Homo sapiens: one gene and its partners. The protein of the gene in region 2 purifies or fractionates together with the protein of the main gene of each other region. This does not show direct contact. Each region holds a gene or a part of one and is shown on either strand. Other genes may lie near its edges. The genes, in order: PALD1, NXPH3 and LMF1.

Region 1 (7,463 bases), on a different chromosome or scaffold from region 2:
GAGCCTGAGGCAGGAGAATTGCTTGAATCCAGGAGGCGGAGGCAGCAGTGAGCCGAGATTGTGCCACCACCACTGCACTCCAGCCTGAGACTCTGTCCAAGGAAGGAAGGAAGGAAGCAGGATGCATCCAATGCAGTAAGGCTAAGCATTTTTTTGTGAATAACACACATTCACATATCTGTGTAGCTGGCCCTGGTGTAAAATGTATTTCTTACTTTGGGTCTTGATAAAAAAAAGGTTTGAACCTTGTGTATGAATTTGGGAGTCGGGGGACGTAATCCTTAGGCTTAGACCCAAAGAAGGATATAATCAATAAAATGAATAATCCTGCCCATAATATGATGCCGATAACTGAACATGTATCCTGCGCCAGATGGGGATGCTCAGGTCCCAGGGCCTGGCAGGGAAGGGAGGGGAAGGATTCCAGAGTGGACAGAGATCCCATGGGCAGATAGGGGAGGAGTCCAAGGCAAATTGCCTGGAGGAGGAACCTGAACTCAGCCTCCAAACACCCCTCTGCCCTGGCAGGTTCAGGGCTAGGTCATGGTGTGAGCTTGGGTGGCAACAGTAATGACAGGAACAGCAGTCATCAGTAAGTACTTGCTGAGTGCCAAGCACCTTTTATCCTCCAGACTTTCCCAGGAAGCAAGAACTGCTCTTTGCATCATTTTACAAATGAGGAGACTTGGAGCAATGTGGTAACTTGTAGCATAGGGGTCACATGGTGGTAAAGTTGCTGTGGCTAGATCCAAGCCCAGGTCTGCCCTGCTTAAAGCCCTTGTCTTTAGGATTGCACACAGAAGGGGGCTGAAAAAGTGGGAGTGCTGGATGCTGGAGATGGGGCAGTGGGCCTGGAAGGGCGGATGGCCAGGGCAGACAGGGGATCCGTCTGTGTTGGGATTCAGGCGTCACGGATGAGTTTGCCTGAGGCTCAGAGACCACTGGGCTCAGGGCGAAATCACAGGCCACAAGACTCCCACCCTGAAGGGTGCACATGATCCCTGTTCTTGGCAGTAAGGTGGTCACAAGGAGCAAGGCCAGCCCATGTCCTGATGTTGTCCACTCCTCAGGTCCAGTGTCCCTCAGCTGTGGCAGATGTCAGGGAAGAGTGGGGAGTAGAGAAGAGCAGCAAGGGCCTGTTTCCCATCTTTGATCAAGATTCATCTTTGCTGGTTTGAACCCAGCTCCTCTGCTTTCCAGCGAGTCATTTGTGCCTGTCAGGAAATCATTTTTGGCTTGAGTGTTCCCTGGAGGGAATCTGGGGTTCCCACAGCTCATGTTTTTGCCCAGGAACTGAACTTGGGAGCTCTCTCCCAAGAGCACCAGCACCTTGCTTGGGCTGATGGGGCAGTGGATGGCCACAGGCGAGTCTGTCGGGGCGTGAGTAACAGGTTACTCATATTCTTTGCAGCAGCAGCTTGTCTGGTTTTGGACGGTTGCAGGTGCTTTGTGTGTGTGCTACACGTACACACACATACACACATGCTCACTTATAAAGCCACACTCACTCCCACTAGACACTTGCACAAACATGGATCCCTGCAAATATGAGTTCACGCACGAGCAATACAAGCATGATAACATGGTGTCTTGGACGTTTGTGTGTGGGGGATGTGGGTGCTGGCAGTGCTGGTGGAGTGCTGGGTGAGTGGGGGTCAGTCCCGACCTCTCTCCTTCCTGAGATCCTGTTCTGGGACCCATGAATCTTTTCTCAGGGGATTTTGGGCTTCTGCTCTGAGCTTCCAGATTTCTCAGGAATCTTCTGCTGCAGTTTGAGAGGCTCAAATGGGCTCAACTGAGAGCTGGCTCGACTGATTCTTTCGTTCTGCCTGGGGCTGGGGAGAGAGCAGGATGCCTTCTCTTGGGTGTACCCAGGGCTGCTCTGTGGCCTTCTCTCCTTCAACATTCAGTCCTTGTTCCCCTCCCAGGCCCACGGTGGGGCAGATCTGACTGAATCTTTCTTGTGGTTGGGACTTTTCTAGCCCCATAGCCAGCAGACAGCCAGGGCTGCAGGACTCGCTATTCTGAGTAGGGACTTGGCAGGCCCTCTGGGGGGCTGGTGGTGGGCTGGTGAGGCTGGGCACTGTGGTTTGGATGCAGTCTGTGGCCTGACCCTGAGGAACCTCCAAGCCCTCAGCCCCCTACCTACCAGCTGAACCCTGAGGCTAACTGTTAGATCCAGAAGGGTTGTGACTGCAGGCTGTCCTGAGAACATCTTTGTCCTGGGCTTTTCTGCTTGGTTCAACAAGAACACCTACTGTGTGTGTGGTGAGTACAAATGAATGTATGGAGACGTGCCAGGCACTGTGCTGTGGGCCAAAAGACAGGTCAGGCACAGGTAGGACATAGCTTTTGTTCTCTGGGAGCTAGAGAGGCACACCGCCGTGGATCCCAGCATCTGCTGGGCAGGGAGGGTGAGGGGAAGCAAAGTGTGTGTATTTGTATGTGTGTATTATGTGCATATGTGTATGTGCTATGTTTCTGTATGTATATATGTGTGCATGCATCCCTATAGGTATGCATGTTTATGTATATATTTGTATACATATATGTGCATGTATGTGTATACATGTGTGCATACACATGCACATGTATGTAAATGTATATTTTGCACCTGCTCACACACATGTTGCTCCTACCTTAGTCCTGGCCTAGAAGAGGACATTATCCTGGAATGCATCCTCAGGATGGCAGGCTTCAGCTGGGGAGTCTGACAGCTGGTGGGATGGGATATGGGGCTGTGGCAAGAGGAAGAAGGAAGGAAACTGTGGCCCAGGATGGAGTCCTAAAGTGTGCCACACACGATGCCTGGACATTACTTGCCCAGCTCACTGGCTTCTCAAATACCTCTTTGAAGGAGGATGAAGCCATCTTATGGATGTAGAAGTTGGGAATCTGAGAACTTACGTCACTTTTCCCAGACCACACAGCCAGTAAATTGTGAGCCACTTTGAGCCTAGCTCTGCTGAACTCTGAAGGTCAGGTCTGTTTCCCAAGGCCACTATGGGATTTTCTCTGCTGCTGTCCTTTTCACACACCTTGGGTGGCGCAGGAGCAGGTATGGAGCTGAGGACAAGTCTTCCCTGGGCCTGTTTCCTCATTTGTTAAAATAGGGATCAGAAAAGTACCGACCTTATAACTTCGCGAGGCACTTAAGAGCTAGGTGCTAGGGACATGGTGAGACCACCACAATGAGTGATTTCTCTTGTCTTCAGTTATTCTTAGGGGTCATGGGGAATGTGTTCCCCTCTCCCAGCCCAGCGCTCTCCAGCCTGACAGAGGTGGGGCCTACACTGCCTGCATCCTGGGGCAACCCCAGCTCGCCGAAATCCAGCTCCAGTCCTGAATGGGGGTGAGGCAGGTGGTAACAGGTGAGAAAAAAGGATTTCCCGAGTGTGGAGCAGCGAGAGGGAGGAAGTGACTCACCAACCACAACAAAGCCTATCTCTCCGCGAGGAAGCACAGCGAAGAGTGAACGCACGCACGTGGGTGCGTTCACCCACGTGCTCGCGGGGGCGTGCGGGGCCGTCGGAGTGGGCCGGGCTGGCTGCCGCCTAGTGCTAGTCCGCGCGTGTGGGGTGAGGAGTGGTGGGGGGGGCAGGCCTATGGTGCGGGTCACTGCCTGGAGCCGCATGATGGGTGGGGGCGGAGGGACCCCTCTCCATCCAAAGCTCTGCTCTGCTGTTCCCCTCTCACCTCTGGGGGCCGAGGGGCGCGTTTCCTTAGGACCCCGGGGCGTGGGAGAAGCCCCTGCTTGGGGGGACCGTCTGCTGTTTAGGGGCTCCCCTTCGACACGTGGGAGGCAAAAGTGCAGAGCGCACCATCATCCAGCTCCGGCCGCACTGCACAGCGAGGCCGGCCCGGAGCCCGGATGCTGGGCTCGGTCCCGCCGAGGCTCGGCCTGGCTGTAAAGCAGAGGGGGGCGAGGGAAGCCGGGCCAGCGGGTGTCGCGGGTAGCCGGCGTCCGGGACGGGGTGTGGCGCCCAGAGCGCTGCTGCCTCTCGCAGCCAGGAGGCTGGATGTCGGGTTTGGGTGTCTTCCAGAAGGAGCCGCACTAGCGACGAGGGAAGAGGAACTGGCTTCCCGGGCAGTCTCCCCCGCCCCAAACTTTTCCTCCTCGCGGAGGGTGGGCGGGCGGAGGGAGGAAGCGCAGCCGGGGAACGTGGCGCCCGCGTTCCTCCCGCCCGGGGGCTGCGGCTGGGCTGAGTGTGTCTTTAAATCTGAGCCCCCCGCCCCTCGCGGTGGGGCCGGGACTCGCGGTCCGGGCGGGGGCGGGCGCGGTGATTGGCGGCCGGGTCGGGTCCGCCCCTCGGCGTTGGGTAGCGGGGCGCTGGGGAGCAGCGCGGCGCGCACGGGCCGGGGCGCGCAGGTCCCGTCGCCGGTGAGCACGGGCTCCCTCTCGCGTGGCCTCGCCGGGTCCGCCTGGCCTGCCCACCTCCGGAGCCACCTCTGCCCCCGCATGGGCTGGCGAAGTTGGGAGGAGCGAGCTGGAGCCAGAGCGCGCGCCGGGCGCGCCCCGTCGCTGCCTGACTCGGCGCCCGCAGTTCGGGCGCAGCACGCCGGCCGCAGGAGCACGGATGCCCCCCGGAGCCGCGGGCTGGCAGGTACCGAAGTGTCCTGCCCTGGGGCTGGCGAGGGGAGGGCAAATCTGGAATCCCCCGGGCACCCCCCAGCCCGAGGCTGCTCCAGACACCAACTCCCCATCCTTTGGAGAGGTGAGGTCCTGGGCCTTCACCCCACACCCGCTCAGGATTGGTCCCTGGGAGGCAAGAGGGACTCACAGGGAGCAGTTGCTGGGTGGTTGTGTGTGTTGGACCCTGGGCTACCCCCTCTCCCGAGTTCCCTGGGTTTGGTGTAGGCATGGCCTGGTGACAATTCCACTTTTCATTGCCAGACCTGGGAGCATGGCCAGGAGCTAGGGTTTCCCGCGAAGTTAGGGGGAGATTGGGGAGAGGGAAGCCGCTTCATGACCGAGATGGGGTCCTGGGACTCATCTCTAGGGGGCGTGAGGCCCTCAGACCCAGGACGAGTCCAGAAGTCTCAGCGGGCACAGGCTTTGATTCTTGGCCCAGTCTGGCCCTCTTCCTCTGTAGGCCCGGGTCTCCAAGGAGAGTACGTTTTTCAGTTTCAGAGGGTTTTCCTGAAGGGGCAGTAACCTGTCAGAGAGAGAGTGGCCTATGGGAGACCCGGCTCCTGAAGGTGGCCGGGATGGTTGGAGCCCTTTCTCTTGGGTTGTCAGAGATGGGAGTAAAGCTTCATGGCCCAGGGAATCTTCTGGGCATCTCTACTCTCCCAGCCAGAGGCCCAGGAACCAACTCCTTGGCTTCTGGGTAGAGTAACCTGAACCCAGTGGCCGAGCACCTCTTAAATGCCAGGAAGGGCACTGGGCCGTGCCCCTGGAATGTGTGGATGGAGGAGGATTTGGAGGATTCTGTCCTCAGGAGGCTCAGCCCCTGGGGGCAAGACAGGACATAAACACACAAAGTTCCCCGATACAGGGTTTCAATACCAGTCCTGAACTGGTAATAGTGGAAAGCCAAGAGGCTACACACCATTAATTGCTATGTGAGTAATGTAGGCTGCGAGAGTGCCAGGGCAGCAGAGATCCAGTTCCATGCAAGCAAGCAAATGTGCTGAAATGTTCCAGCTCCATGCCCGCCCTTCCTTATTACCTTGCTCCAAGGGCAGGGAGCAGCAGGGGCGCTGAGGAGGTTCTCCTGCACTCATCCCCACCCACTCCCAGGTTTGTTTGTTTCCTGCTGGTGGATTTCTGAAATAACCCATTTGGTTTCTTGGCTTGGGCTGAGCACAGGACACTCCTAGTTGCCCTGTGGCTCCTGGGGTTTGGGGTCTAGAGCCAGCCTTGTAGGAGGTTCAGAGGTAAGCAGGAGGAAGTCCTCACTTCCTTTCTGAAGAGCCTCTGTCGCGGGGGGTTGGGGTAGGTCGGGAGGCTGGCAGGCACTGGGCCAGTTTCCTATGAGTGCAGACAGACCCCAGGTGGTGCATGCACCCCCCTCCCTTTCCTGGCCAGTGTTGGGGGTGGGCACAGTAGGGCCCAGGTGGCTTGAGGTGGGTGGTTCCTGGCACAGCTCTGACCTCACTTCTGTGAGGCTCTGCTGTATCTGGGGCCCTGCCCCCTCCCTCATTGTCCCTGGCAGGTTTCTGTTTTTCTGGAGCACTTCGTGGAGGTGGCAGTGTGCTCATGCTCGTGGCCTTGGGTGCAGTTCTGGGAGTGGGAGTTGCTGAGCTCACCCGAAGCCCTTGGCTGGCACTGTGAGAACTTGTGTGAACACACTTGCCTGCCTCCAAACAGGTGGTGCACAGACCTGGGTTACCCAGGCACCTGTGGGGGATGCCCCGTGTGGGCAGAGACGTGAGTGCGTGTGTGTGCTCAGGTTTACATCTGTGTGGGCAGAGACGTAGAGGAGCTGGATACATATATACTTGAGGACAGACACAGGAGGATGGTGGGGGTGAGCAAACAACCCAGGGACACAGACATGTGCGGGGACAGACATACATGAACCCATCAGCGTGGGCCACGTATGGGCTGCAGACACGTACATAGAAATACACCATTGCTGGGATCTGAATCTCCCCACATGGGAGGCAGACATGTAAGTGGACAGACATATAGGTAGACCCAGCAGAGCACAGACGGGGATGGGAACCGACATTCCCAGACAAAAGACTCGGAGCCACAGGGAAGCCGCTCAAGTGCCTGGGCAGAATGGAGTTGGCTGTGAGCTCCTGGGGGGCACAGACACATATGCTTGCCAGAGCCAGCGGACAGCAGAGGCCAGGAACCAGACACAGGTGGGTTCTGAGAGGTAGGCCGAGGCGTGCATTGCCTGGTTATCACTGTTTCCCTGCGTGGCACAGTGCCCGGAAGTTGTCCTGTTTGGGGTGGTGATGGTACAGGTGCTCTGTGGTGGAGCTTATTTCTAGACTCTCACTTTGGGGTTTGAGGACCCCAAAAAGCTCAGTCTCCTGTGTTTTACTCAGAGTCATTTGGCCTCTCCACCTCTGCATTACAAGGCTGTGTTTGTGCCTTAAGTGCCAGCAGGTGCTCTTTGAATTTTGATTCTCATCTTCCCTGGATCTCCAGAGGCTTCCTGAAGTGAGGCTGTGTGGCCTGGGTAGGGTGCTCCAACTGTTCCTTTCCTACCAGAATAGGAGAGGAACTGTCTGGGGATTCTCCTTCTGAACCCAAGCCTGCGGGTCTTTGACAGGGATCCCCCAGGTGAGAGAGAGAGCACACATGTAGCTGCGTCTGTGATGAGAGCCACTGCCCTCTGGGGCGGGCTCCTTCTCTGCTAAGCCGTGGGCTTGCACAGGGAAGGGGTCCCCCACCTGGCTATGCTCAGGTCTCCTCTGCCCAACCTGGCACCTGAGAGACAGCCCAGATTCTAGATATGCTTTGATACTAATGCACCATGCAACCTCCAGCAAGTCAATTAATG
Region 2 (7,464 bases):
TTGATGTTGGAGTAGAAGTCGCCCCAGCCAAAGATTTTCTTCACCTTGGCTGAGGGTGGGGGGCTGTGGTTCGGGCGGTTGGGGGGCTGCCCAAGAATGCCCCAAGCCTCCCCAGGCGGGGCCAGCAGCCCTAGGAGAGTGGAATTGGCCATGGGGCGGGACTTAGGTGAGATGTGGCCCCGCTTCCGAGGCACCCGGGGCCGGGGCTGGCCCTCGTGGTCATCACGCTCAGGGTCCTCTGAGCCGGGAGGACCATCATCCTGGCCACAGATGACCTATGGAGGGAGTTGTGAGTACAGTGAGAGCCCTGTCCCTGGAGGTCCACCACCCCCGCTACCAGCAGTACCCCTGTCCCTGCCACTTCACTCTGACCTGGGTGAGGAGCTCCTGCGTCTTGCCCACTGAAGCTGGGGGGCAAGTGTACACTCTAGCTTGTGTACATCTCAGGTTCTGACAGTTGGGTCACCCCCCCCCCCATTGTCCTTTCCTCACTGTCTTGGCCACTATTCAAATTCAAAGTCTCAAAGACCGACAATAATTCTCTCCAGTGAACTGTGGCACCAGGGACAACGGCTCCTACCCCTAGGGAGTCCCCAGTCTGATGGGGGAAGCCCAGCTTCTGATCTTGGGGAGCCCCCATCTAATTGCAGAAGCATCATCCCTGTGCTGACAGAGCCCCCAATTTGATAGGAAGTAGAATCCCTGCCTCTGTGAAATCCCCAGGCTGATGGGGGAGGCATAATCTCTGCTCTGAAACAGCCCCGAGTCAGACAGGGAAGCACCATTCTTATCCTGGGAGAGCCCCTGGTTTGACAGGAGAGGCCAGCCCCTGCCTTTTGGGACTTCCTAGTCTGTTGGGTAAGACACCGTCCCTACCCTAGGATAATTTCTACCCTTAGATGCAAAGAGAACCACCAGACAATGGAATAAGAAAGCAGAACACAGTGTAATTCTCAAGCACGAATATAGTTTAGGTTTGGCAAGAGAACTAGGGGAGACCCGGAGTGAATGCCACACCCAGGATGGCCATGGGAATGGAAAGCCAAACACCTCTCCAGGGTACACTGATGATGACATGCCACGATGTTACTTGCATTCTGAGGTAGGAGTTCTTATTCCCATTTCACAGATAAGGACACTGGGGCTCAGAGATTACAACACTACAAGGCTGAGTTCACATAGGGTCAGCCCTTCCTTTACACTCCACACTCCTGGCCTCACAGATCAGATGTGTCTTTTTGAAAGGGTTTTTATCCAGGCGCCATCCGCCTCTGGAATCTGCAGGGGCTCATCCTCCCTCTGCTGGATCAGCTGTGGTGACAACCCACACCTGGGAGATTCCTGGAGGTGCCACAGGGAGAGTGGGACAGCAGTGGGGGGCATCAGGGGGTTGACAGGGCTTCCTGAGGCGCAGCCTGGCTGTGGGTTTGCTCAGCTTTTGAAAGCAACCACTTGCCCTAGGTGTCTTTACTACCAGCACCGGGGGGCATCTGGATTTGGTGGTGACACTGGGGTGGGGACAGTAGGGTTCCAAGGGGCTGTGGGGTCCTCATGCCTGTGTTCTGGCCTGGGTGTTGCCGGCAGCTGTGTGCTGTGGCCGAGTCTGTCTCTGCCCCACAGTTCAGGCTGGCCCTGACTGCCAGGCCCCAGAGGTGGGGTAGAGGGACGGCTAGGACGGGAGGCTCGGGGTCTGGGTCTAGGGCTGCAGACCTGTAGGTACTTGCTCCTGAGGGTCACGGCTGAGTGGCTGGAGGGTAAAGGTGGGGCCGTGAGAAGGGAAGGGCTCTTCCCACAGTGGCATGGGGCGGTGGCAAGGGGCTTGTTGATTAAAGGGGCAGGTCCAGATGTGGGGCTGAGGCTTCACGACAGTATTGCGGGGAGGGTCAGCGGGCGCTCGGTCGGAGGGGAGTTAAGCCACGGGCTGGGTTCGGGGAGGGGATCCCCGGCGCCCTGGGTCGCCGAGAAGCCGCGGAGCCGGCGCACGGGGAGCGGGCTCTGGGCGCTCCGCTCAGCTGCCGCGAGTGCCTGGGGCGGGAGCCGCCTGCCCAAGTCCTGTGGGGCTCCGGCTGCGCGCAGCCGGGAGAGCAGAGGAAAACAACAGGCGGGGAGGGAGGGAGCGGGAGGGAAGGCGGGAGGGGAGGGACGCGGGGGCCGCCCCCCGCCTGGACCGGCTCTGTGCTCTGGGGGACCCAGAACCCGAGGCTCTCTGAGTCCCAGAGGTCAGGGGAAAAGCCTGCAGGTCACCAGCTCCACGACCCGCGCCCCACTCGCCCCCGGCTTCAGCGGTCCTGAGGCTCTGGGAAGGGGTAGGGTAACCCTGGCGACCCGGCTCCAGGCCTTTTTCCGAGCGCTGGTCGCACCTCCAGCCACCCGCTGCGGAGTGGGTGGGCCAGCCAAGCACCCTCTCCCCGCCCCTATTAACCCTATCTGTCCAGTCTCCGGCCTCGGACCCGCCCTCTCCCCCAGCCTCCAGTCTTCCCCGCCATCCCCGGGATGTCGGGGGAAGGGAGAAAGTTTCAGGGCTCGCAAGCTTCCCGCGCTCTCCCCCGATCCTCCGGGCCCCCGCCCCTCTGCGCAGCTCCCCTCGGACCACTCACCAGATAGAGGCTACCCTGCACCAGGAACACGAAGCAGCAGCGAGTCAGTTGCATCTTCCTCCTCCGCTCTCGTCCCCTCGCTCTCCCCTTCTCTTTTCGGGGTCCCAGGCCTCCTTCCCCTTCCTGCTCCTTCAGGCGCGCCGTCCCATGCTCCAGTCCCCGGCGGCCCGCGGCCCTCCCCTCAGCGGGTCGCCCAGGGCCGACCCCGCCCCCTTCGGTCCAGCTGTGCAGCCGCCGCCCCCCTCCCCTGGTCCAGCTGCGCGCGGCACGGCCCCCGCTCGAGGTCCCAGATGTGCGCCCCGAGCGCCTCGAAGGGCCCCAGCTGCGCCGTGGCTCTGCTGCTCCAGATCTGCGCTCGGCGCCCCCCTCGGCTCCAGCGGCGCCGCTCTCGCCCAGATGTGCTGGGGACCTGCGCGCGCGCCCGTCCTTGGTGCTAATTCCCCAAACCAGGCTGCTCCACCCGCCCCGTCGCGGCGCGCCCCCTGGCGGACGCCCCCAGCCGCGCGGAGCCCCGGCCGCCCGCTCCCCGCGCTGCGCTGCGCCCCGCCAGACTAGAGCGCTCCTGGCGCCCAGGCGGCTCCCGCTTCCTCGTCCCTCCCACCGGCGGCGGCGGCGGCGGCGGCAGGTACAGTGAGCCCAGCCGGTACCTCCGGAGTTAACTCCTCCCCTGCCGGCCCGCAGCCCGGGGACCTAGGACGCCGGCTCTCCAGCCAGGAGAGGACGGCACGCGGGGGCGGAGTAGCTCTTGGAGAGGAAGGGAGAGGGTGGTGGCCAGGGGATACGGACCCTACCGTTTCCACCTCTTTTGCAGGGCGCCCGTTCCCCGGGAGCGGGCAGCAAGAATCGGCTGCCCTGCCCCCAACTCAGGAGTCCTGGAATTAAGAAAGATCCTTTTTTTAAAAAACCCATTCTAAGAGCCAAAACCTGTGCTGAGGGAAGTCCTTCTGGGTGTCTAGCCTGCACTCCTTTTGTTATGATGTCTGCTCCTTCCCTCTTCTACTTTACTTGGAGGGGCTGAGATAATCCCTGGACCTTCTCGGTCCAGCCACTGTGACAGGAAGTATTTGGCTGGGCCCCTGGGCTGAAAAGGCTGTTAGGGGCCAGGCTAGATTCTGGGGCCGGGGGCAGGTCCTGAGAAGCTGGAGAGTGAGGGGAGCAAGGCCTTCCTGGAGCCTGTCCCTTCATTATTCACTACTTACCCTCTCTATGCCACAGGGGTCACCAGGCCGAGAGTGGCTCCTGTCCCAGTGGGGTCTCTGCAAACCTCCAGGGCAAGGAGGAAGAACACGACCCTGATCTGAGATTCCCAAAGATGGGGGCCCATCCTCCATCACCCCCACTCCATATCTTCAGGTCTCCCTCCTGGAATTCCAGGGTCCCTTTAGTCTGTAGAAAAATGAAAGGTCAAGTCCTGGCATCCCTTGGAGGCTATGAAGGTGAGGAGGCACCCCATCATTTGAAGTGGTCCCAGCTTGGGCTGGGCCCAAGGAGCACGGTGGGTGGGCACTCTGCTCTGTGGCCCTCCAAGGCCCAGCTTGGTCCCGTGGCTGCAACCCCGGCACGCACCCAGCCTCCTCCCCCACCATCTGCCAGGCGGGTGCGCGGGGAATGCAGATGAATCTTAATATCAGCCTGGGCCAAGTGCGATGAGGGAGACAGATTCTGCAAAACCCAGACAGCATCACAGAGCCCCCTGCATTTCCAGGCACCCTGGGCCATACCAAGATGCAACAGCTCTTTCTTGGTGTTGGTGGGGGGTGGGGTGGGTGGTGGCGTGCATGTCTAGTCAAAGACCCCCCCAAAGCCGGGGAGGCAGGAACAGGCAAATCTTTGTTTGGCCTCTAAGCCTCTGGTCTGGCTGGGAGGGAGAAGCTGTTGGCCTGAGTGTGGGCAGCTGGTTCCGGCGCTCAGCTAGGCAGGGGCGTAGCTGGGCCCACTCCTTGTCTGGTTTCCAGAAGGTCCTGTCCCTAGGAGAGCTGTGTGGCCCAGCAGAAAGAGCACAGGTTTTCAGGCCAGACAGTCCCAGATTCTGTTCCAGACCTGGCTGTGTGACCTTGGGCAGGTTACTTTGGTTCTCTGATGTCCGTTTCCTGATCTGTTCTTGCAAGAACCAAATGAGACAAAATGTGCAAACAAAGCGCAGGCACAATGGCTGGTGGGCAGTCGTAGGAGTGCAGTAAACGGAAGTTCTCGCTCCTCCACTTCCCACACATTTGCTCCGGCTGCTCCTCCTGCCAGGCTTGCCCTTACTCCCCTCTTGGTCATTTCTGGCTCTCACTTTGTTCAAGTTTCCCCTCCGCATTTATCCATCACCCACTGGCCGAGCCTGTCCGCCGTGCCAGGCGCCAGGCCAGGGGTTGAGATAGAGATGAATGGGACACCCTCCCTGCCCTCAAGGATCTCATCGGCAAGTGTGGAACAGAGACATGAAAATCGATAATTGTAACTCAGTATGGTGAGTGGAATAACAGATCCTTGAACAAGGAAGGCATATGGATGCACTGAGGAAGCTGGGGGCAGGGGCGAGAGGGTCAGAGATGGCTTCCTGGAGGAGGTGATACTGCAGTTGTGAGGAAGAGCCTGTCTGGCAAGGGCTATTCCTGGCAGAGGGCACTGAATGACTAAAGGTCTGGAGGCTGGAACTGGAAGCAGTTTGCTGTTCAGGGAGCACAGAGCGGGAGGAGGGGAGGCTGGGACCAGATGATGGAGGGTCAAGGGGTTGAGATCTTTGTTTATGAGGAATCTTTGAAGGATTTTAAGGGGGCTGTGATTATAGTTAGATTTGCATTTTAAAAGCTTTTGGAGAATTCCCTGGACTAGAGGGAGGGAGAGGAGAGGAAATCATTAGGAGACAAATGCAGTGGTTTGGGGGTGGGGGGCAGGGAGACTGAAGGCATCTTTAGGAGGCAAAATGATCAGGATTTGGTTGTTGCTGTGGTGAGGCAGGAAGGGAGAGAAGGAGTCAGGTGTGACACCCAGTTCCCTGGCTTGAGCAACAGGCTGGCTAGTTGATGAGGTGGGTACCATAGATGGGAGGAGAGGGATGGGGTCTGTGGTGAGGGTGGGAGGGTCAGCTTTCGCCATGTCAAGTCTGGGTGCTGTCGGCCACCCAAGGGCAGGAGAAAGTCTAGCCTGGGGTGCTAGAGGTATGGAGGGTGCCAGAGGAGCACTGGGCACCCTGGCATTTAAGGTAAGGTGGTCAGAGGAAAAGAACCCCCAGAGGATTCCAGGGAGGAACAGGGAGCCAGGGGCTAGGAGGACAGGTGGGGCTGATCCCGAAGCCACTGGAGAAGTGGGGTTCTCACGCTCAAGGTGCCAAGCAGAGTGGACACAGTGCGGAGTGTGCATCATGCAGATTCTGGGGTCCCATCCCCAGGGAGCCTTAGTTGGTAGACAGGAACCGAGGACTACATATTATATAAGCTCCTGCCCCTACCCAGGTGATGCTGATGAAGGTGGCCTCTAGATCTGGGTGTGGGGAGTGTCAGGAAGAGGGGAATGAGCCACAGCAGAGTGACCTGGCAAGGGAGAGACAGAAAAGTGACCACTAGGTTTGGCTGAGGTTTGACAACAACTGTACCCAACCTTGGGCCCTCCAGCTACTCCCAGCGTGGGAAGACAGATCCAAGACACAGTAAACTCTGTGTACCAAGCACACTAACAGCTGTGCTAGAGGTGATGTGTCTGCCATTCAGGTGCACCTCTCCATATTCCTCACCCCTCTCCCCAGCCATGCCCTGCACACACCAGGTGCTCAGTGAAGGGGGCAGAACTGAGCACTTTAGGTCCACCCCTCTGCCTCCAGCCTTCCCTGCACCCATTTGCACCCTGGATGGGGGTGGCTGGGCTTTTGCTGAGCACCTCTGATGCTTTCACCTGCTTCCCTCTCACCCTTGGAAGAATCCTATCTACACTGCTTCCTTCCTCCATGCTTCCCCAGTGCTGCCGGAAGGAAAACAACGCGACACAGTGGGCACCTGAGCAGTGCCTCATGAATGAATGGGAAATGGGGTTCCTAATGGCTTGAAAGGCAGAGAGAGTGATGCCCTTGAGCTAGCTGCAGTGGAGAGGTCTGGGGGAGAGGCAAGAGTAGATAGATCATTATTGTTGTTAATCTCTCATGTTTAGCAGGCAATTTGCAATTTTAAAGTGTTAGGATAGAGTGCTATGTATAGGGTTCCAAGGGGGCCTGGAGGGAAACCCTAATTCAAATGAGGGGGCGATGGACAGATTGCAGAGAGATTAATCTTAAATGACGTGTGGATCTGCCCAGGTGGGAGGGAATGGAAAGAACCTTCCAGGCAGAGGAAGCAACTCTTGCAAAGGCCAGAGATGAAAGAAAGCCTGGGAATGGGGTTCTGATGAGGACGAGATGAAAGATTCATTTGTTCCACAAATACTTACCAAGTGTCTACTTTTATGTCCGGTCCTGGGCTGGTGTGGAGGTACAGTGTGGACAGGGGAGACTGCAGTCCTATTTGCATGGAGAATTTGGGCTATGGGAGAGACAGACATTAAATAACTGAGCACATGAAAACATAAGCTCTGAGATGTGTTGGCAAGAGGTACGGGGGAAGAAGAACAGCAAATTCCAAACAAGAGAGAAACTAAGGAGGGATCCTAATTTACCTGGGAGGGGTCAGGGAATGCCTCTGCAAGAATGTGACCTTTCAGCTGGGATCTAAAGGATGAAGAGCTGGACAGAGGGGCTGCACCTGCTGAGACCGTGAGCCTAGGAAGAACTTGGTGCTTTGGAGGAGCTGAAGGGAGCTGAGCTTAGTGAGTGGGGGGAGAGGGACACAACACCGCCAGAGAGGTGGCAGGGGCCAGACCATGCAGGGCTTTACGGGTCTAGCTAAGGGTTTGG
Region 3 (7,069 bases), on a different chromosome or scaffold from region 2:
ATACCCAGACTTCAGGACATGAAAAATTGGGGTAAATGAAGGGTGCACGATTATCTTCGGGCCCACACTGGCTTCCTGCGGGTGCCAGAGACAGCTGCCACCGCATGCCAGGGACAATGGCCCCGAGGAGGCGGGAGCTGCCAGGCCGGGGTGCTGGGGGACAGCTGGACGAGGTGCCGACAGGGGCTCATTCCTCCCTGAAGCCGGCCCGCAGCTGCTGGGAGCGTGGCCAGCCACGGGCTTGTGTGTGCCTGGGTCCTGGGGGCTGTGCTGGCGCAGGCCGGGACGGCGGGGACAGGGTCCCACCTAGGGCAGGCTGGTCGGTCTCCGGGGAGGCAGCCCAGTCTTCAGCCTGCGTGCTCTTGGGGTGTCCGTCCCTTCCTCCCCATTCTCCTCCTCTTCTCAGCGTCTTCTCCCCCAGCACCGGGCAGCCCTGGGGTGGCCGAGCCTCATCTCCACTCCCCTCCCTCAGGCCTCTCCTGGGTCAGCCTGGCTTTTTCTCTTAGAGTTTTTGCTTGACAGGGCACTCTCAGGACGCCCTCCTCCTCCTCCCGCCTCGGGTTGGTGTGAGGCGCTCAGGGCAGGGCCCACGTGCCTGTGGTCACAGGACACTGAGCTGCAGGGTGAAAGGACCACACCTGGCCGATCTCCCGGCCGCTGCAGCTCACTCTGGGTTTGCAGAGAAGCCTGTTTTTAAGTGAAGTGCCTTCTTAGAGAATAAGACACACCTGTATCTAAATGTTATTTTTAAACTGCTAGATGCGCCTTAATATAGACAAAGAAGTAAGGTGAGCGTAAATGACATGATGTATTCCGACAGGTGACAGCGCCTTCCGGGCGATTCTGAAACACCAGTGCAGGGCTGTCTGTTGTCTTTTGTTTTCATTTTACTTTTTTTTTTTTTTTTTGAGACAGAGTCTCGCTCTGTCGCCCAGGCTGGAGGGCAGTGGCACGATCTCGGCTCACTGCAAGCTCCAGCCCCCGCGTTCACGTCATTCTCCTGCCTCAGCCTCCCGAGTAGCTGGGACTACAGGCGCCCGCCACCATGCCCGGCTAATTTTGTTGTTGTTGTTGTATTTTTAGTAGAGACGGGGTTTCACCGTGTTAGCCAGGATGGTCTCGATCTCCTGACCTCGTGATCCACCCGCCTCGGCCTCCCAAAGTGCTGGGATTACAGGCGTGAGCCCCGGTGCCCGGCCTCATTTTACTTTTCTAAAATTCGAGGCGAAATTCACATAGCATGAAATAAGCCATTTGCCAGTGAACGACTCGGTGTTTAGCACCTCACAGTGCTGGGCAGCCATCGCCTAGTTCCAGAAGATTCTCATCAGCCCAAAAGAAAACGTCCTACCCCCGGACCACTGGCTCCCCACTCCCCGTCCCCAGACCTGGACCACAGAGCTCCCTCCTTTCCCCGTGGCTTTGCCCACCCCGGACATTTCATGTAAATGGGCTCACGCAACTCATGACCTCCGCGTCTGTCCTGTCCCACTGAGCTTGATGTTCTGAGGTTCATCTGTGTTGTAGCACGTGTCAGAACTGGATTCCTTTTTATTTTATGTTTTATTTTAGTGAGACAGAGTCTCGCTCTGTGGCCCAGGCTGGAGTGCAGTGGCGCGATCTAGGCTCACTGCAACCTCCACCTCCCGGGTTCAAGCGATTCTCCTGTCACAGTCTCCCGAGTAGCTGGGATTACAGGTGCCCGCCACCACACCTGGCTAATTTTTTTGTATTTTTAGTAGAGGCGGGGTTTCACCATGTTGGCCAGGCTGGTCTTGAACTCCTGACCTCAGGTGATCCACCTGCCTCGGCCTCCCAAAGTGCTGGGATGACAGGCGCCCGGCTCCTGGATTCTTTTTGATGGCTGAATCATAACCCAGTGCACTTTTGATTAAATTCAGGCTGAAATGGGCACGACCAGAGCTGCTGGTCCACCTCTCCCCGGCCCAAGCCCTGCCCCCGGTGACCTGCTCTGGAGCCATTCTGGGCAGTGGATGGGACCCCTGCGGTCAGCGTCTCAAGAGAGCAGACCCTGAGGGAAACTTGAGCTCAGAGAGAACAGGAGCTCCCAGCAGACCCTTCCGCTGACTGCTCCCACCCTGGGCAAATGCAGAGCCGGAGCCCGGAGCGCTGGAAGCTGGAACAAGAGGCCCTTTTCTGCTCTGCACAATGCCCCATTGTGCCCTTCGCGGGGAGAGCAGCTCGGCCCAGCGAGGGGAAGCTGTGCACAAAGCCTCCTTGTGAGGGCAGCCCCACCTGAGGACAGCGCAGGGCCACACCTGACGCAGGGCAGTCCCTCTCGCCGTCCGTCCCCTAGCAGGCCTGGCACCCAGACAGGGCCCGCTCTGCAGGCGTGGTCCCAGGGTGTGGGGCTCCCTGTTCCCCACAGATGAGGGGAACAGTGTGGGCTGTGCCGGCCCTTCCTAAGCTGGCCCCCAGGTCACGAGGAGAGGTACGGGTCGTGGGCTCTGTGGAGGGACTTGGGTGCCGGGCGCCAGCCAGGGCCGATGCCTCCTGCGATCCCCAAGGCTCCGAGCCCTCAGGCACACACCACGCTCCCGGAGGCTGGGCCAGCATGCGGAGGATGTTTGTGTGTTCGTACCCGTTGCAACATCTTTAACAGGGTCCCATTTCACAGCTGGGCTCCTAAGGGGGGTTTCATAGAAAAGAAATGGAAACTAAAAATGAATTAAACCATAAGATGTACACGTATGCTACGGCCCCAGCAACACAGGGAAGGTGGAGGCTGAGAGGAAGCTCGGGCCACTGCTGGTCAGGCCTGGATTTGGGGGCCCGATGTCCACAGTCAGTCCCTGCCCACACAAGGCTCACACTGCAGGTGGTGAAGATATAATTAAACAGGTAATTAAACAAGCAATAAAGACGGGTCATTTGACCAACCCAGTGGCGATAATTGATACGCCAAAACACTAGGAAAGCTAGAGAGGCAAAAGAGAAGAATACATGAAAACAAAAACAAAAAACCAGGACAAATATTTCCAATATACACAAAAGAACAGGATTTTTCATACGTAAAGAGTGCTGACAAATGAATAAGGAGAAATCTGCACTTCCACCTAAGTGCCCCACAGTTTATTCACTAACCCCTAGGTCTCCAATGCCTACTCTAGCCTCACGCCCTTTCTTTCCTCTAAGGAATGCCTGTGACCCCAGCCCTTCCTAGCACCCGCTTCACATCAGCCTCCAGAACCCCGCTCCAGTCATCAGAGTGTAGAGTGCTGGCGTCCTCCTTCATGTTCTGTTTGGGGCATTGGGCAGTTAGCCCTTCCCTCCTGAGTCCTGAGTCCCCCTCTTCCCCCACAGCTTGAAGTCCAGTCCCAAGGGCAGGCAGGAGCTGGGTTGTGCAAAGGCGGAAGGGTGCTCAGGCTGGGAGAAAGGGGAGGGTCCCCCGAGCATTCCAGGCACAGCCCTGCCTACTCTGTCCCTTGCTGGCTGCGACGATCGCCCTAGCACCCTCCTCCGCAGAGAGTGAGTGTCAGCTGTGAGGCAGGGGCACGCAGTGGTAGCACCGCCAGGGCCTGTGCAGCCCACCTTCCCCAGGACCACAGCTGGGAAGGCGCCTGGCTGGGGGAGGGCACCTGGCCTCTGCAACTCGGACTGACGGAAGGCACGCGTGCCTGCCCCAGTGAGCTCGGGTCGGGCGACGCGCACCACCTCCCAGGTACCCGGCCCCGCGCCCTACCCGCAGCAGCGCCCAGCGAGAACTGCGAAGGAGGCAGGCTCCGGGCACCCGCTCCCGCGCGTGGGCGGGGCCGGCTGGAGGGGGCGGTGCCTCCGGGACTGTGAGCGGGGCCTCCCGGGGTGTGGGTGGGGCCTTCGGCCGTGGGCAGGGCCGGCCAGGGAGAGGCGGGGCCTCCGAGAATGGGCGGGGCCTCCGAGAATGGGCGGGGCCTCCGGGAGTGCGCCCTCCCCGCACATGCGCCCTGACAGCCCAACAATGGCGGCGCCCGCGGAGTCGCTGAGGAGGCGGAAGACTGGGTACTCGGATCCGGAGCCTGAGTCGCCGCCCGCGCCGGGGCGTGGCCCCGCAGGCTCTCCGGCCCATCTCCACACGGGCACCTTCTGGCTGACCCGGATCGTGCTCCTGAAGGCCCTAGCCTTCGTGTACTGTGAGTGCCGGGCGGGCCCGGGACATCCGCCAGTGTCACCTCCGCGCACCACGACCCCCGCCCTCCCTCGAGACTCCTCCGCGCGGTCTCGCGGCCGCGGCGCCCCCACGCAGCCCTCCTTCCTGCTGGGGCCCGGGCAAGGCGGGGCGGGCAGGGCAGGACAAGGCTTGCTGGCGACAGCGCACCCGGCCCTACCCCTGTCGCCGCCTCGAGCCTCCGGCCTGGGCTCCTGGGCTCCCGGTTCCACCCGCAGCCCCGAAGTTGCACGGCCGCGCCTGCCAGGACCGGCTCGGGGCTATGCGAGGCGGGGCCGGCCCGGGCCCTGGCCCAGGAGTTCCCAGGAGAGCTGGGCAGGTGGAGGGTCACCCGTCCGTGCGCAGGTCGGGGGTCTGCGTCCTGGCTGCGGGGCGGGGGGCGGCCTGGAGAGGCGAGGCGCTCCTGCTGTCCCCGACACAGCGCTGTGCTGACGGTGAAGGTTCCCACTGTAACTGGACGCCCGCACGCCACATCCCTGCCGCGTGCGGCCCCTGCCAAAATCCGAGGAGCCGGCCCGGGAGCCTCCTTCGCGTCTCCCAGGGGCTGAGGGAAGGTGACTGGCTGGTGGCCAGACTGGAGTTTCTCCTTTAGTGTTCTCGACTAGCTCAGTCTGCGTTCGGGAAGATTCCCAGCGGAGGTCTGGGGGCAGCTCCGGAACCTCATCTGCAAGTGAAGCCTGCGCCTCACTGTGGGATGTGGTTGGCCGGGTCCACTGGCGGAGACCCTTCACCCCACAGCTGTGCGGGGCCCGCGTGCGCAGCCTACAGAGCAGAGCTCTGAGAAAAGTCAGTTCACGCTCAAAACCTCTGGATCCCCTGGCCAGGGGCAGCTGGCGATTCCAACTCCCTCTCTCCCCAGTCCCTACAACCCAGAACTGGTTTGGAAGAGAACGGTTCTGTGATCACGGTGACATGTGATCACACGGATACATGTTTCATAAGCCCAACGTGTCAGGAGCTACGAACCTCAAGTGAGGCTCTCAAATGAGTATGGAAGTGAGGGGAGCCTGCCAGGCCGAGATGCAGCCAGCGGGGCGCGTGGGCAGTCACCGTCCCAGAGGGCTCCGGAGCTGCTGGCCCCGGGCGTTGCCCACGCGTTGGTTGTAGGCCGTGGGCATTGGACGTCTCCCTTTCCTTCCATCGTCTGCTTCCCTCACGTGTGGAAGGAAAGGGTCAGGTTGCAGAAGTTCTTCTTTGCACAGCCTTTGTGCCACACACGTCGCGGGAAGTTTGGTAGCCTGGTTGTGCTGGAGTGATGCTCAGTTCGACGTTTTGTGTGACATTTGTGTGATACTTTCCACCTCCTGGTGCAAAGTGATGAGACGCGCTCATCACTACAAGGTTTCCTGTGGGATTGCAGTATCGGCTTCAACTGGGTCTGTGTCTCTCTCTCTCTTTCTTTAAAGCAACTATTTTATTTTATTTATTTATTTTTTTCGAGACGGAGTCTCACTCTGTTGCCCAGGCTGGAGCGCAACGGCACCATGTCGGCCCACTGCAACCTCCGTCTCCTGGGTTCAAGCGATTCTCCTGCCTCAGCCTTCCGAGTAGCTGGGATTATAGGCACGCACCACCATGCCTGACTAATTTTTAAAAATATTTTTAGTAGAGACAGGGTTTCACCATGTTGGCCAGGCTGGTCTCGAACTTCTGACCTCAGGGCCTCCCAAAGTGCTGGGATTACAAGCGTGAGCCACTATGCCCGGCCTGCAATTATTTTAAAAAGTAGTTCTTCCCAGGTTGCTTTTCCCTCCACAGTATTAAACAGTCATTTTAAATGTTGGTGCTGTCACTTAGCAAACGATGAAGTAGAGATAAAGTGAAGCTGTGAGGCTCTAATAGGCCTTCCACAGGGGAGCCCGAGATACAGCAGGAAGTCCCAGCGGCCTTGCCTCCGGAGCACAGCTTCATAAAACCAGCTCAGACTCTTTCAAACGAGCTGAGGCTCCTTTGATCTCCGCAGGGATTCTCTGTTCAATTCAGAAGGAACTGCTTTTAAGCCACTGGGTCAAGCGGATATTTTAAGCCTGGTGCCCAGCATTGAACATTTCTCCTTGACATATGCACGTTCTTCTGTCTTGTGAGTACATTTGGGGTAGAATCAGTGTTTTTCTGCTGTATCAAGGAACCAGTTTCCCATCTTTCAGGGACATGGTTTTCTGGCTGAGCTGGCCCAGGGCAAGCAGGCAGTCATCCTGCATTTATCTCCTTCTAGAAAGTTCTGGATTTTACTGGGACTGTGCGCTACTCCCTGTTCCTCAGAATCCCAGGGTTTTTCCAAGTTGCCATAGGGGCTCTCCAAATATTTCACTTGATACTGAATTTTACAATGTTTATAGCTATTGAAACACTTGTAATTAAACACATAACCAAATGTATTCTGTGGAAACTCCCCTTGTTAAAAGACATTGAACTGAGGGAGGCTTACCCTTAGGCAGATTGTCTCAGCAGACATGTAGTAAAGATGTACAGATCAGGAGAACACAGAAACGCCTGCCCTGTCGGGGAAGCTTCGAAGCCAGACCTGGAGAGGCCGGCTGCCAGCGACAGGCCTCTGCATTCAACCTGACTTTGCATCCGTCCTGGGGCTGGCTCCTTCCCACCGCGGGCCTGGGCGTTTCCATGTGCTGCCACCGAGGTGTGTAGGTGCTAGGGGTGTGCTCACTGCACACAGACGTGCATACCGCGGGCGTCCTGGGGTGTCGGGCATGCCCTGCTGTGCTGTGGGAGCCGGAGTGTGTTAGCGGAAAGCGGCATTTTCACAGGGCTCAGAGTTGAAGACACACCTGTCTTCCTGACGTGTGGACTCGGGTCCCTAGTGTGATTACTGCGTTGAGCAGATGCTGAAGTAGCACCCTGCCCGGTGCTGACCTCCTGGTGACAACGCCACTACCCCCAGTGGAC

The links.
Region 1: the proteins of NXPH3 (region 2) and PALD1 purify together in Homo sapiens (affinity purification with mass spectrometry; 2 studies listed by BioGRID and IntAct, with this or other methods). This does not show direct contact.
Region 3: the proteins of NXPH3 (region 2) and LMF1 purify together in Homo sapiens (affinity purification with mass spectrometry; 2 studies listed by BioGRID and IntAct, with this or other methods). This does not show direct contact.

What each region holds. Positions count from the first base shown.
Region 1 is NC_000010.11:70,474,456-70,481,918, forward strand, and holds the start of PALD1 (paladin), read left to right. Parts: upstream 1-4,311; 5' UTR 4,312-4,604; exon of another isoform or gene 4,605-4,715; intron 4,716-4,742; exon of another isoform or gene 4,743-7,463.
Region 2 is NC_000017.11:49,571,407-49,578,870, reverse strand, and holds the start of NXPH3 (neurexophilin-3 precursor), read right to left. Parts: upstream 3,001-7,464; 5' UTR 2,652-3,000; coding exon 2,598-2,651; intron 276-2,597; coding exon 1-275. UniProt on the Homo sapiens protein: May be signaling molecules that resemble neuropeptides. Ligand for alpha-neurexins.
Region 3 is NC_000016.10:967,849-974,917, reverse strand, and holds the start of LMF1 (lipase maturation factor 1), read left to right. Parts: upstream 1-3,933; 5' UTR 3,934-3,937; coding exon 3,938-4,130; intron 4,131-7,069. UniProt on the Homo sapiens protein: Involved in the maturation of specific proteins in the endoplasmic reticulum. Required for maturation and transport of active lipoprotein lipase (LPL) through the secretory pathway. Each LMF1 molecule chaperones 50 or more molecules of LPL.